Regions from separate parts of the Homo sapiens genome. Here all the other regions are linked to region 1. Evidence: fine-mapped expression QTL. A gene starts in region 1. Each other region holds a variant in brackets. All regions are shown on one strand. Distances are between the middles of the regions. Region 1 holds the start of THBS4 (thrombospondin 4). Region 2 overlaps MTX3 (metaxin 3). Region 3 has its middle 20 kb from the start of THBS4-AS1. Region 4 overlaps LOC105379048 (a long non-coding RNA gene).

Region 1 (2,686 bases):
GATTCAGAGGGTACATGTGCAAGTTTGTTACATGGGTGCATTGCATAAGGTGGGATTTGAGCTTCTAGTGAACACATCACCCAGTGAACGTAGTACCCAATTGGTAGTTTTCCCAACCTTCCCCCCTACTTTTGGAGTCCCCAGTGTCTACTGTTTCCATCTTTATGTCCATATCTATCCACTGCTTAGCTCCCGCTTGTGAGAACATGGTATTTGCTTTTCTGTTCCTGCCTTAATCCACTTAGGAAAATGGCCTCCAGCTGCATCCATCTTGCTGCAAAGAACTGATTTCATTGAAAAAGACCAGTTTCTCAGCCCTTCCTATTTACCTCAGAAATTAAGACATCAAGCCAATCCTTGAAATAAACTTTCTTTTTGTCGTTCAAGCAAAGTCAGAGCAGAAAATGCAGGTGGCAGGGCAAGTAGAGTAATTCTGCGTCTTTCTCAGGGATGTCAAGAGCAGACTCTGGGCATACATCGCTCCGCCTGAGGAAGGATTTAGGGAGCAAGGCTGCCTGGAGGGAACCGGCACAGGGTGCAGGACCCGGAATTCACCCTACACCAGAGCCTAACATGTTAAGAGGTCTAGGACCGTGTAGCAAGTTTTGAAGGCAACCCCACCCCACATCTTTGCATAGTCTGAAACAATTTTGCATCCCCCAACTATTTAGGCAATTGTTCTCATCATTGGATAATCGAATTTCGGAAAATTCTAGACTAATCACTACCTCCAATCACAATATGCTTTGATTGGGCCCGGGAGGGACAGAGAGGGGCTGAGCAAGGCCACAGGAGCACAGGGCCGAGCAAGTCCCTCCACTCACTCAGCAGATGGGGCACCCGGTGCCCGGCGCTCCCAGGCCCGACCCGAACCCACTTACCCTGGGGGGTGGCCTGGGCGCCTGCCGCTAGCCACCGCTGCAGGACCAGGTGCAGCAGGAGGACGGCGGCTCCGCGCGGGGCCAGCATGTTGGCTCTTCCTGCTCCCCGCGAGGCCGGGGGCGACGGCGGCGTTGGCCCCGCCTGGGGGTCCCCGGGCCGTGCGTTGAACCTCGGTCGGCGCCCGGGCCGGCGCCGCAGGTGACCCGTGCTCGGCGTCCGGGCTGCCGTCGGGGGCGCGCTCGCGTCCCCGCCGTGCGGTGCTGGGGAGCTGGCTGCTGGGCTCCGCGGCAGCGGCCGGGCGCTTTATGGTGCGGCCGGGCGGGGGAGGGCCGGGGCGGGGGCGGCCCCCTTGGCGGGATCCCCTGTCCTGGGAAGAGCTGGGCAGCTGGAGCAGCGAGCCGGGGCCGCAGGGAGAAAGGCGCGGGTGTGAGGATGGGAAGGAGCCTGGACGGACCAGGTCCTGGGGTGGGTGTAGACACGGCCCCGACGCGCGAGGGTAGGGGCGAAGATGGGCAGTCGGGGCTGGAGAGAAAGGGGTGCTGAGCAGAGACCACAGGGGAGAAAGGAGCGGGAGGAAAGGGGCGAAAGGGAGGAAGAAAGTGACACTGACCCACTAGCTTTGGGCACCTTCAGTCCCCTACTCCTTGCGCTCCTTTTGTTTTCTAAAAAGAAGAATATCCTTTGGATCGGCTTTGAATGCCCACCTTGGGTTCCCTTGCGAATGAATCCTGAAGTTCTCCAGGAACGCTCTGCCTCCTAAAGTGGCCCAGAGAGCAGCGAGTTTCTTTTATTTCTTCAAGCTTTTCTTGAATACTTGAAAGGCTGAATTTTTTTCTCTATCATTTTGAGACACAGTGAAAGTTTGAAAGTTGTTGTGTTTTTAATGGAGATAAAACACATCTCAAGGAATCCATCCAGACAGAGCCATTTCTAGGCTGGTGAATCTGTGCTTTATGGATAATTCGTTTTCAGTATGGTTTCCAAACGCCCTGCTTGCCCACCTCTATTCCTCTGTCACCAAAGATTCCGTGTGACAGTTTAAAGGTACGGGAGTAGAACTTGAAAGAGATCGGAGGAACGCAAGTAATTCGTCCTTTTCCTGGGCAAAGCTCCCGGAATGATATGGATTAACTAGAGGAAAAAATATTTGATAAACAGTGGCAAAAATTTCTCCTCTGTAACAATCTCGACTAATGGAGAACATCCAGCAAAGTATTGCTATCTCTTTTATGTCTCAAATAATTCCATTTCAAAGTTTAATAAGCCACAAACTGGGAGATTAATGCACCATTTTATCCCCAAACTGTGCTAAAATAACCTGACACCAATTATCACTCAATTTACAGCTAGCGACTTGGAGATTTGTGAGCTATCTGCAGAGCTCTCTAATATGTAAGGTCCAATACAGGTCTATCCAGGGTTCCTTTAATGCCACATTACACTACAGTCACTCTTTGGAATGGGGCATATGTCTACACATGAGAGAACACTGAGAGACACAGAGGATGTGCATAAATATCGACTAATGAGATAAACTAGATTTGGGAACATTCAAATCTCCAGACCATGTTCCCAGGAGTGGCCTGGGTTTGAGAGGAATCTAGGCTCCCAAGCTACGCTTCAAGCAGAACAGCCTTGCCTTTCTATGTTTTTACAGTAGACTTCAGAGATTAAGATTTTCTGTGAAGACAATATTTGGATGCTCAAAATTTTGAAAGCCACTATTCAGTGGTTCTCAGCTGATTGGGTATACCAGAATCTCCTGGGGAATTTAAAAAACAGTGATTAGGTGCCTACAGGGAAC
Region 2 (2,686 bases), 57 kb after region 1:
TTTCTAAACATAGTATTCAACTTAGTTGAATAAATATATGATAGAAGTTAAATAGAATTTTTATTTCATTCTTAAGAAAAACTCATGTTTGTAACAAATGATATCTAAAGATCTATTTTGCCTTACCAGAAAAGAAAAAAAAAACCCTAAAACCAAAAACTCCTTTTCCCTAGGAAGTCAAAAATGCTGTGATTTAAAATATCTAATTATATTTTTTTCTTTCTATGGTAGTGGGGTTTACTTCTGAGGATAAAATATTTTGAAAAAGCTCTGTCCCTTGACATGGTAGTTCTCCCGTGCCTTGTACTTGTTCTCTCTCCATATGCACAGTGTGACAAGATGCTCACCTTTAATGAAGAAGGTGTAGCTTTTCGTTTTAAGCTGTAATTGTCTTTGTCTTGATTTGGCTATTTTTATAACTGAAATCCTGAGCAACAGAGATAATTTGGGTGGTAATGATCATCTTTTGTATATGTTCTTGATGTTAAGAAATATTTTTTGCTGCCATTCAGCTTTGTGGAATTTATGTTTACTTTTCAATATTTTCATATTTCTTAACCAGATTTTAAAGAAATTTGTTGTTAGTTACGTGAAATCAAAGGTCAGGTCAGTAAGCCCATTATCCTCAAACTTGAAGTTTCGTTGGATGTTCAAAATGCTAATTTTTGCAGAGATATAAGGATAAATTAGTTTTAGTTTGTGTTCTTAAGGGTTTGCAAAATAATTTGGCTCCCAAACTCTTGTTGGGGTGTAGTGTTTGCTAGGAGCCCAGGATACCTGCCCTGGACTTAAATTGTGATTGAAGTGGAGAGGTACTCTAGGAATTTAAAAAGACACAAAATTATTTTTTTCCAGACTAGTGTGCCATGGATTTCTGATAAGAATTAACATTCTTGAACAAAGGTATCAGAAAGGGTAACTCGAGTTGAAGGTTTGTGAATAGAAGGGGAAATGTGATAGAAGATTATTCAGAACAAAATAAGTAGACAAAATAACAAAAGACAGGAAAATAAGTCTCTTTGTATCCTTATTAATCATTTGAAATTATGCTATAATATTTTTTAAAACTCACCTGTTTGGTTCTGGGTGAAGCAGTTCCTGAAGGAGTGTTTTGTCAGAATATATTGTTAGGAGAATAGAGGGTTCTGTGGCCAAGTAAGTTTGGGAAATAGTGGGTTAGACAAAGTTGAGTTACTGTTGGCCTTTCAGACCTTTGATACGCTAATGTGCATTTTAAATCTCCAAGAAGCACCTCTATTTTATACATCATTTCCCTAATTTATTTTAATATGGATTTCTTGTTTTTGTTTTCTTGAGACGGAGTCTTGGTCTTGTCACCCAGGCTGGAGTGCAGTGGCACGATCTCGGCTCACTACAACCTCCGCCTCCCAGGTTCAAGCGATTCTCCTGCCTCAGCCTCCCAATTTACTGGGATTACAGGCACCTGCCACCACGCCCAGCTAATTTTTGTATTTTTAGTA[G/C]AGATGGGGTTTCACCATGTTGACCAGGCTGATTTTGAACTCCTGACCTCAGGTGATTCTGCCCGCCTCACCCTCCCACAGTGCTGGAATTATAGGTATGAGCCACTGTCCCCGGCCAGATTTTTTTAAAAGTAGGTATCTTGTGGGATTTATGTTCTGAGAGATACACCTAAGGAAATGCTGCCCTACAGTGTTTTTGCTAGTTCATACTCATTACAAAGGTTTCTTGTTGTTGGGTGCCCCTCTAGCCAGTGGTAGTAAAATGGGAAGAGACAGGTCAAGACTCCCTTGGACCATGGCATTGAGAGAGGGATGGCTGTCGGCATAGATATGTTGGTTATTTAGGCATTTGTGAGGGAGGCCCCTGGCTCTTCCAGCCTGTTTCCTTAGGATCCCAGTTGGCCGGGAACAGCTGTACAAGGGTCTGCTGAACTGGTGGTTTCAGCAGACTACCCAGTTCCTAAGCATCCATGAGACAGAGGGAACCAACTTGTATTTCCAGAACAATTTTCCAAACCTTTTCTGGCTGTACTTTAAAAGTGCCAAAAAGGCAATGGGTGTTTATGACACTAAAGTCACATACAAGCTAGTATGATACATACATCATAGAAAGCTTATAGTTGCTCAGTGACAAAGCAAAGGAAGTTTAATATTTTCCAGTTTTGTTCATTACCGAAGACAGTCTACGGTTCATAGTTTTCACTAAATTCTAAGCAGATTCTATATCCTAAAACATTTAAACCTCACTAGGCCTGCAATTTTGAGAGGGTTAGCTAAATATGTTTGGTATCACTTCAGAGTCTAAAACCAGATTACTAATCGTGTGTAAGGAGGCATTTTGTGTGTCTTTGCAATGTATACAATTGGATTATTTGGAACACCATTTTGAATGTGTATTTGAGAGAAAGCTCGCCTGTGGGTTTTGAGTTGTGGTGTAATGGTGAACATGTAGCCACGTGAAAGGCCGTTGGATCTTTGTTCTGATTCTTCAGTCGTCTTCTTGCAAATTCAGAGAAATGTCTTTTAATCATTTCGTTTACATATCCCAGATCCTTGGAAATCATGAAAAATAACTTGCCAGAGTTTGCATCAGCCCTCAGTAAGTCATGAACCATAGAGAAGGTCATGGGGCCATTTATTCTTTGGACCACTGGCTACTTCTGAAGTTCTGGCTTCCTTCTCTCTAGGAGGAGTCGTGTATTCAA
Region 3 (2,686 bases), 69 kb before region 1:
CATTCTCCAACTCCCTGTCCCCCTCCAACTTCCAAGCAGGTGACTTCCTGGCTCATTGCCTCAGCTGTGGAATGTGACAGACAGGAAAGCAGGACTGGACCTGGGATTCAAAAAGCCCAAAGCCACTCCAGAGTGTACAGGACTCCAGATCTAGCCAAAATATTTGGCATATGGGAGGTTTGATGAGAAGGTGATTTCCTTGGTGGTGTGGGGAAGAAGGAAAGCAATGACAGTGCAGAGGTGGGGGTACAGGTCGGAAACAGGGGGCAGATCGTCCTGTTTCCTGCAACCTAGAAAGAGCCCTGGGAGACCCCAGAGAGGAAATGGCTTGTGTGTGTGTTGAGGTAGACGGGACCTTGCCTTCTAGAGGTTCTATCCCAGCATGGTTCAGAACAGAACCAGTTCTTTCCCAAGACAGCCGCAGTAGGGGCAGCAAACCTTCAGCCTTAAAAGGACCATGACCTTGACAGGGCATCTGTCTAGTGAATGGGCTGAGAGGTGAGTGATGGCAGCTGCCCTGCACACCTTCAGGGATGTGCTCACACAGTGGCCTTTGCTGTAGGCAAAACTCTAAAGATACTCTCCCTTCTCCCTGTTTGGTCAATCAAACACAAATTTAGGTTCTGCTGGGAAGGGGCTTTGCAGGTGGAATTAAGGTTACTAATAAGCTGACCTTAAAATAGGGAGGCGACCCAGCACATCCAGGTGGGCCCGATGTAATCAAGCAGAAAAGGAAGGCGGAAGAGTCAGATGCCGCAGAAGGCCGAGTCCATGATCTTCCAAGCGTGAGAAAGATCTGATGCCTCCTGGATGATGTGCAAGGACCAAAGAAGGAACCTAAGGAGCTGAGGGTGACCCTAGCTGCCACCTAGCAAGTTTACCCACAAAGAACTGAACTGGGCCAGCAACCTGAACGAGCTTGGAAGAGGATTCTTTCCCAGAGTCTCCAGCTATAAGCCCAGCACAGCCACCACCTGGTAAGACCCATGTTGCACTTCTACAGAAACTGTGAGAAATAAG[T/C]TTGTGTTGTGTTAAGCCATTATATTTGTGATAATTTGTTACAGCAGTGAGAGCAAACTATATAGCCTTTGAATAGTGGTCTGCAGTTGTGTAAGACACAAAGTAAGTGACAATAGGTGGCATCTTCTAGACACCTGTGTGACAAAAGACAATAAAGACCCCATCTCCCAGAGCTCAGTGGGACTTTGACAAGATCCCAGGTTCAGGATGTGGGTAAATTTTAAATCAACAGAGATTATGTTTCTGCCACATTGGCAGGATAGGAATCAAATAGAATTAAACTCTGTGACAGAAAAATTGTTTGTTGGCTGGGTGTGGTGGCTCACACCTGTAATCCCAACACTTTGGGAGGCTGAGGCGGGTGGATCACCTGAGGTCAGGAGTTGGAGACAAGCCTGGCAACATGGTGAAACCTTGTCTCCACTAAAAATACAAAAATTATCCAGGCGTAGTGGTGCACACCTGTAATCCCAGCTACACGGGAGGCTGAGGCACAAGAATTGCTTGAACCCGGGAGGTGGAGATTGCGCCACTGCACTCCAGCCTGGGTGACAGAGCAAGACTCCATCTCAAAAAAAAAAAAAGACAAAGAGAAATGGTTTGTTTTCTGTACACCTGAACTTGTGGCCTAAGATTGGGACCCACTTCAAGAGATCTTACATTAAATGGAGCTGCAATTAAGGCCTCCTAAATGCTGAGAGCTTCTGTGTCCAGGTTAGCGTTCAAAGGACAGGAGCAAGGGGGAGGAAGGCAGAACAGATAAATAGTTGAAGAGGCTCCCAGACAGGTCTTCCCCCCAATACAGCCAGACCCACGGAAGCTTCCACCAGCCCAGACAGGCTTTGCCCTTGTGCTGTCGTGCAAGAGGAGCTCTGGGGCCTGACTGCTGCTGCGTGGGGGAAGAGCCAGCTGTCTGGGGGCTCTCACAAGTACAGTTCTGCTTCCTCTGGCTTCCCACTGTTGGGACTCAGAAAAGAGTACTCTAAAATGAAAGCCTCAGAAGTTAAAAGTTTTTCTCTGCATACCTGCCCTCCTTTCTCTCAGGCGCGTTCTCCCCTAGTCTAGCCTTAGAAACTAGAATCCCTCTTCCCCATAGAAACCAGAACCTCTTTTCCCCAAAGCCAGCCATAAATCCTAAAAATATTACTCTTATTTTCCCTCTGCCTTTCTGTGTAAAAACTGGCCATAAAGAAATGATCCGACTTACCTTGTTTGACTGTAGGTCATAATTCCCCCATTCCCGAGAGGGTCCTGCCCCACACACAGAAGAAAGGGATGCTGTGCAGAGAGGCCAAGAATCTACACAGGCCTCACTGAATCTCCCAGCTCAGTCTATCAGCATTAGATCATACCCTTTTTTTGTCCAGTCGCATTTGTACATAGCTGTTCATACTTCGTTAATCTTAAGCATCAGTATGGCCAATTTCCGCGTTATCTTTGGGTTTTCATTCTGAAGGATCCTGTGTATAAATGTGAAATAAACGTGTATGACTTTTCTCCAGTCAACCTGCCTTTTGCACAACATGTCTCACCGACAGGGCTGACCTTCCTTAAAGGCATCCCCTGGGCTCCTTGCACCAGATAAGAAGGAGCAGGGGTTCCCATGCTACAGCCAGAGCAAGCCTGTGGACAGCCCCTGAGTGAGGTGTGTGACGTGAAGGAGGGC
Region 4 (2,686 bases), 160 kb after region 1:
GTTGTTTTTCAGAAACACGCAAATGTTGTGTTTGATCTGTGGTTAAACACTTCTTGAACACTTCAGACCTCGGCTTCTTGGTGATCTCATAAATTTTCCACAGACTGTGTGTCATTCACAACCTAAGGATCTGGAAGGAAACCCAGCTTTAAAATGCACTTCCCAGTGATTTCAGCCTGAAAGGTGATATGTCTGTTTTTCTAACATCTCAAAGTCACTGGAATGTGCATTGGCAATGTTTCTAGACCAGATTTCTGGGGAACTGGCTCATTTGTCTGAGAGACACAGTTAAGTTAAAGACACTAAAATCTCAATTCTCTTGGCTACTTCACTTCAACTACACAGATGGCTGCTTTGGAGACTAGCATATATATTAGCTGAGATAAACAGGAATATGTCCTGGCAGAAGAGTATTGTCCAAGTGATATTAGAAGCAAAGCTTCTGAGAATGTCATTAAGAATATGTCCTTTAAGTGGTGAGACCATTGGTTGATGTAACTCAACATTCATTCCTTTATTCACATGTATTTCCTGCACAGAGGCTGCAGGCCAGCCTCTCTGCTAAGCTACATGAATCAGGCACAATCTCTACCCTGGAGAATTTTATAGTCCAGTTGAGCAGACAAACAATTATAGTGCAGTGGTAGCTTTGTGTGTGTGCTTGGTACAGCAGGCTTTGGGGGCACAGAGTGAGGAGTGACCACCCCTGCCCTAGAGGATTCAAGAAAGGCTTTCTAGAGGAGGCTTTGAACTGGATCTTGAAGAATAAGTGGTAGTTTACCACTCTTGGGAAAAAGTGGCAAGGGAACCTAGAAGCAACGGCATGGCAAAGACACAGACTCAAGAAAGAAGACTCACTGTTCCAGAAATATTTAGGAGCTTGATGTGGCTGGAGCACAGGTCCTCTGGGGGCAGCAGTAACATTTTCATGGGAACATGGTAACTTGCTCTTCATAGGCTGATCCTAGTGACCATGACATCTAATATCTGTGAATTTATCTGACCTATTCTCGGACCCATTTTTTACTTCCATGCAGAACACCTAATGGGGGTAATGGGTTCCACTTACAGGCTACAGGCTGTGTAAAGATCTATTTCCTTTCAGTTGTCCTAAAATACTTCCTTAAATGATCACCAACAGGGTCATTTTTCCCTCTTTTTATAATTGCAGTGTTTTGGCACTCCTACCTAATCCCCAGGCATCCTATAGATAAAGAATGGATGTGAAAGGCACCACTGAAGCCCTGGCTGGGGCAGCCATGCCCACCTAAAGGCCAAAACCCACCCCCGCTCCACCTTCCACCTCACACGCACAGGCCGCATGCTGCCTTTTTGTAACTCTTTTTCTCT[C/T]TGATGACCTCCCTTGATGTTAATGTTATTCTTTTATTTTTAAAAAAATAAAACAAAATCCCCAATGCATTAATGTGCAATGAGAACTAGATCTGCCAAGTGACTCACAGCAGCCCGAGCAGGACAGTCTCCCCATGCAGCTGGGAAGAATCTGAGCCTCGGCTGCTGATTAGAAGGATGGAGCTGGTGAGCGGCATCGGGTGCCGGCAGACTGCAGCGTCCATTGCCGCAGTAACAACACTCCTGGCACCTGGGCTTCTCCCCAGTCAGGACTGGGATTGGCCCTGCCAAGGTGACACTCTGGAGAGCCACCTTCTTCTGATACCTGTAAGGATATAAATGTTAGGGAAGGACAAAGCTTTTATAGGTGATCTACAAGATGGCTTTACAAAAAAGTTCCTTTGGGACTTTGTCCTGAAACAGGAAGCTTTTAGCCAGAGCCATTCTGGAATTTTAAAAAGAAGGGACAGGATTCTAATCTCAAACAACCCCTGGAATCAACTTTTGACTCCTCCTGTCTGACTTTTCCTCCTCCTGCTGGGACAATAGAACTTGCCCGGCTCTACCCAGGGCCCTTTCCCTTTTTTCTTTCCTGGCCTCTTGGCTCAGCTCACCTCCCGCTTCTCATCCTCCCTGAGCGATGTCACACATGCCCATGGCAGGCAGGAGAGGAGAGAGGTTGGATAAGGAACACGGTGCAAGCCTGACTCCACATGAAGGAGAGATGGGAGGAAGGATGGAGAGAAACACTGTAGACCACCCAGCAATGTAAAGAAGCTCAGCAGCGTTATGGGGGTGTTCTTGAGCAAAGGTGGCCATCAGAGTTGTCCTGGCTTCCAAGGAACAGGCTGCCCTGGCACTCCCACCAACCTCAGCCATTGCCTTGGTGTAGCCTATGGGAAGCATGGCCTCCATACAGGCATGGTGATGGATTGCAGAGTGCAGCAGCTGGGCTCCTGGTCAATGAAGTTCCTCCATCTTGGAGGTCTGCGAGGCTCATACTCATGGCTGCCACACTGGAGGACTCCATGTCATCCTTGCCTGGCCAGCTTCTACTGTCTTCCAGGTCTTAGTTTAAATGTCACTTCCTTAGAGAAGCCAACCCTGACCTTGGGGTTGCCCAGGCCCCCCTGCTGTCTACTCCCAGAGCGCACACTTCACTAAAAGTTCCTGTTCAACTGACTCCTCCGATGCACTCTGCACTCCAGGAGAGCTAGGCTGAGTCCACAGTACTCGGCAGTACTTGGCCCCTAGAAGCCACTCAGTATGTATTTCTTGAATAAATGAATGACTAGTTGCTGGTGCTTGTGAGACAGCTCAAATTGTGCAACAACCT

The links. PIP is the estimated chance that this variant, and not a neighbour inherited with it, causes the effect. A credible set is the group of variants that fine-mapping cannot tell apart.
Region 2: its variant is the best candidate, but not a certain one, in a credible set for the expression of THBS4 in subcutaneous fat (FUSION, PIP 0.54).
Region 3: its variant is the best candidate, but not a certain one, in a credible set for the expression of THBS4 in testis (GTEx, PIP 0.86).
Region 4: its variant is the best candidate, but not a certain one, in a credible set for the expression of THBS4 in visceral fat (GTEx, PIP 0.84).

What each region holds. Positions count from the first base shown.
Region 1 is chr5:80,033,821-80,036,506 of GRCh38, reverse strand. It overlaps THBS4 (thrombospondin 4), which reads right to left and starts at 1,159. Exons shown (of 22, transcript NM_003248.6): 1 at 882-1,159. The coding sequence starts at 969.
Region 2 is chr5:79,977,219-79,979,904 of GRCh38, reverse strand. It overlaps MTX3 (metaxin 3), which reads left to right. Exons shown (of 9, transcript NM_001363818.2): 9 at 1-2,686. Among named protein-coding and RNA genes, the nearest start is that of MTX3, 13 kb to the left of the region's middle. The variant G/C (reference allele first, on the strand shown) is at 1,482.
Region 3 is chr5:80,102,759-80,105,444 of GRCh38, reverse strand. No RefSeq gene overlaps it. Among named protein-coding and RNA genes, the nearest start is that of THBS4-AS1, 20 kb to the right of the region's middle. The variant T/C (reference allele first, on the strand shown) is at 1,021.
Region 4 is chr5:79,874,229-79,876,914 of GRCh38, reverse strand. The region is part of intron 1 of LOC105379048 (a long non-coding RNA gene); the gene reads right to left. Among named protein-coding and RNA genes, the nearest start is that of LINC01455, 61 kb to the left of the region's middle. The variant C/T (reference allele first, on the strand shown) is at 1,351.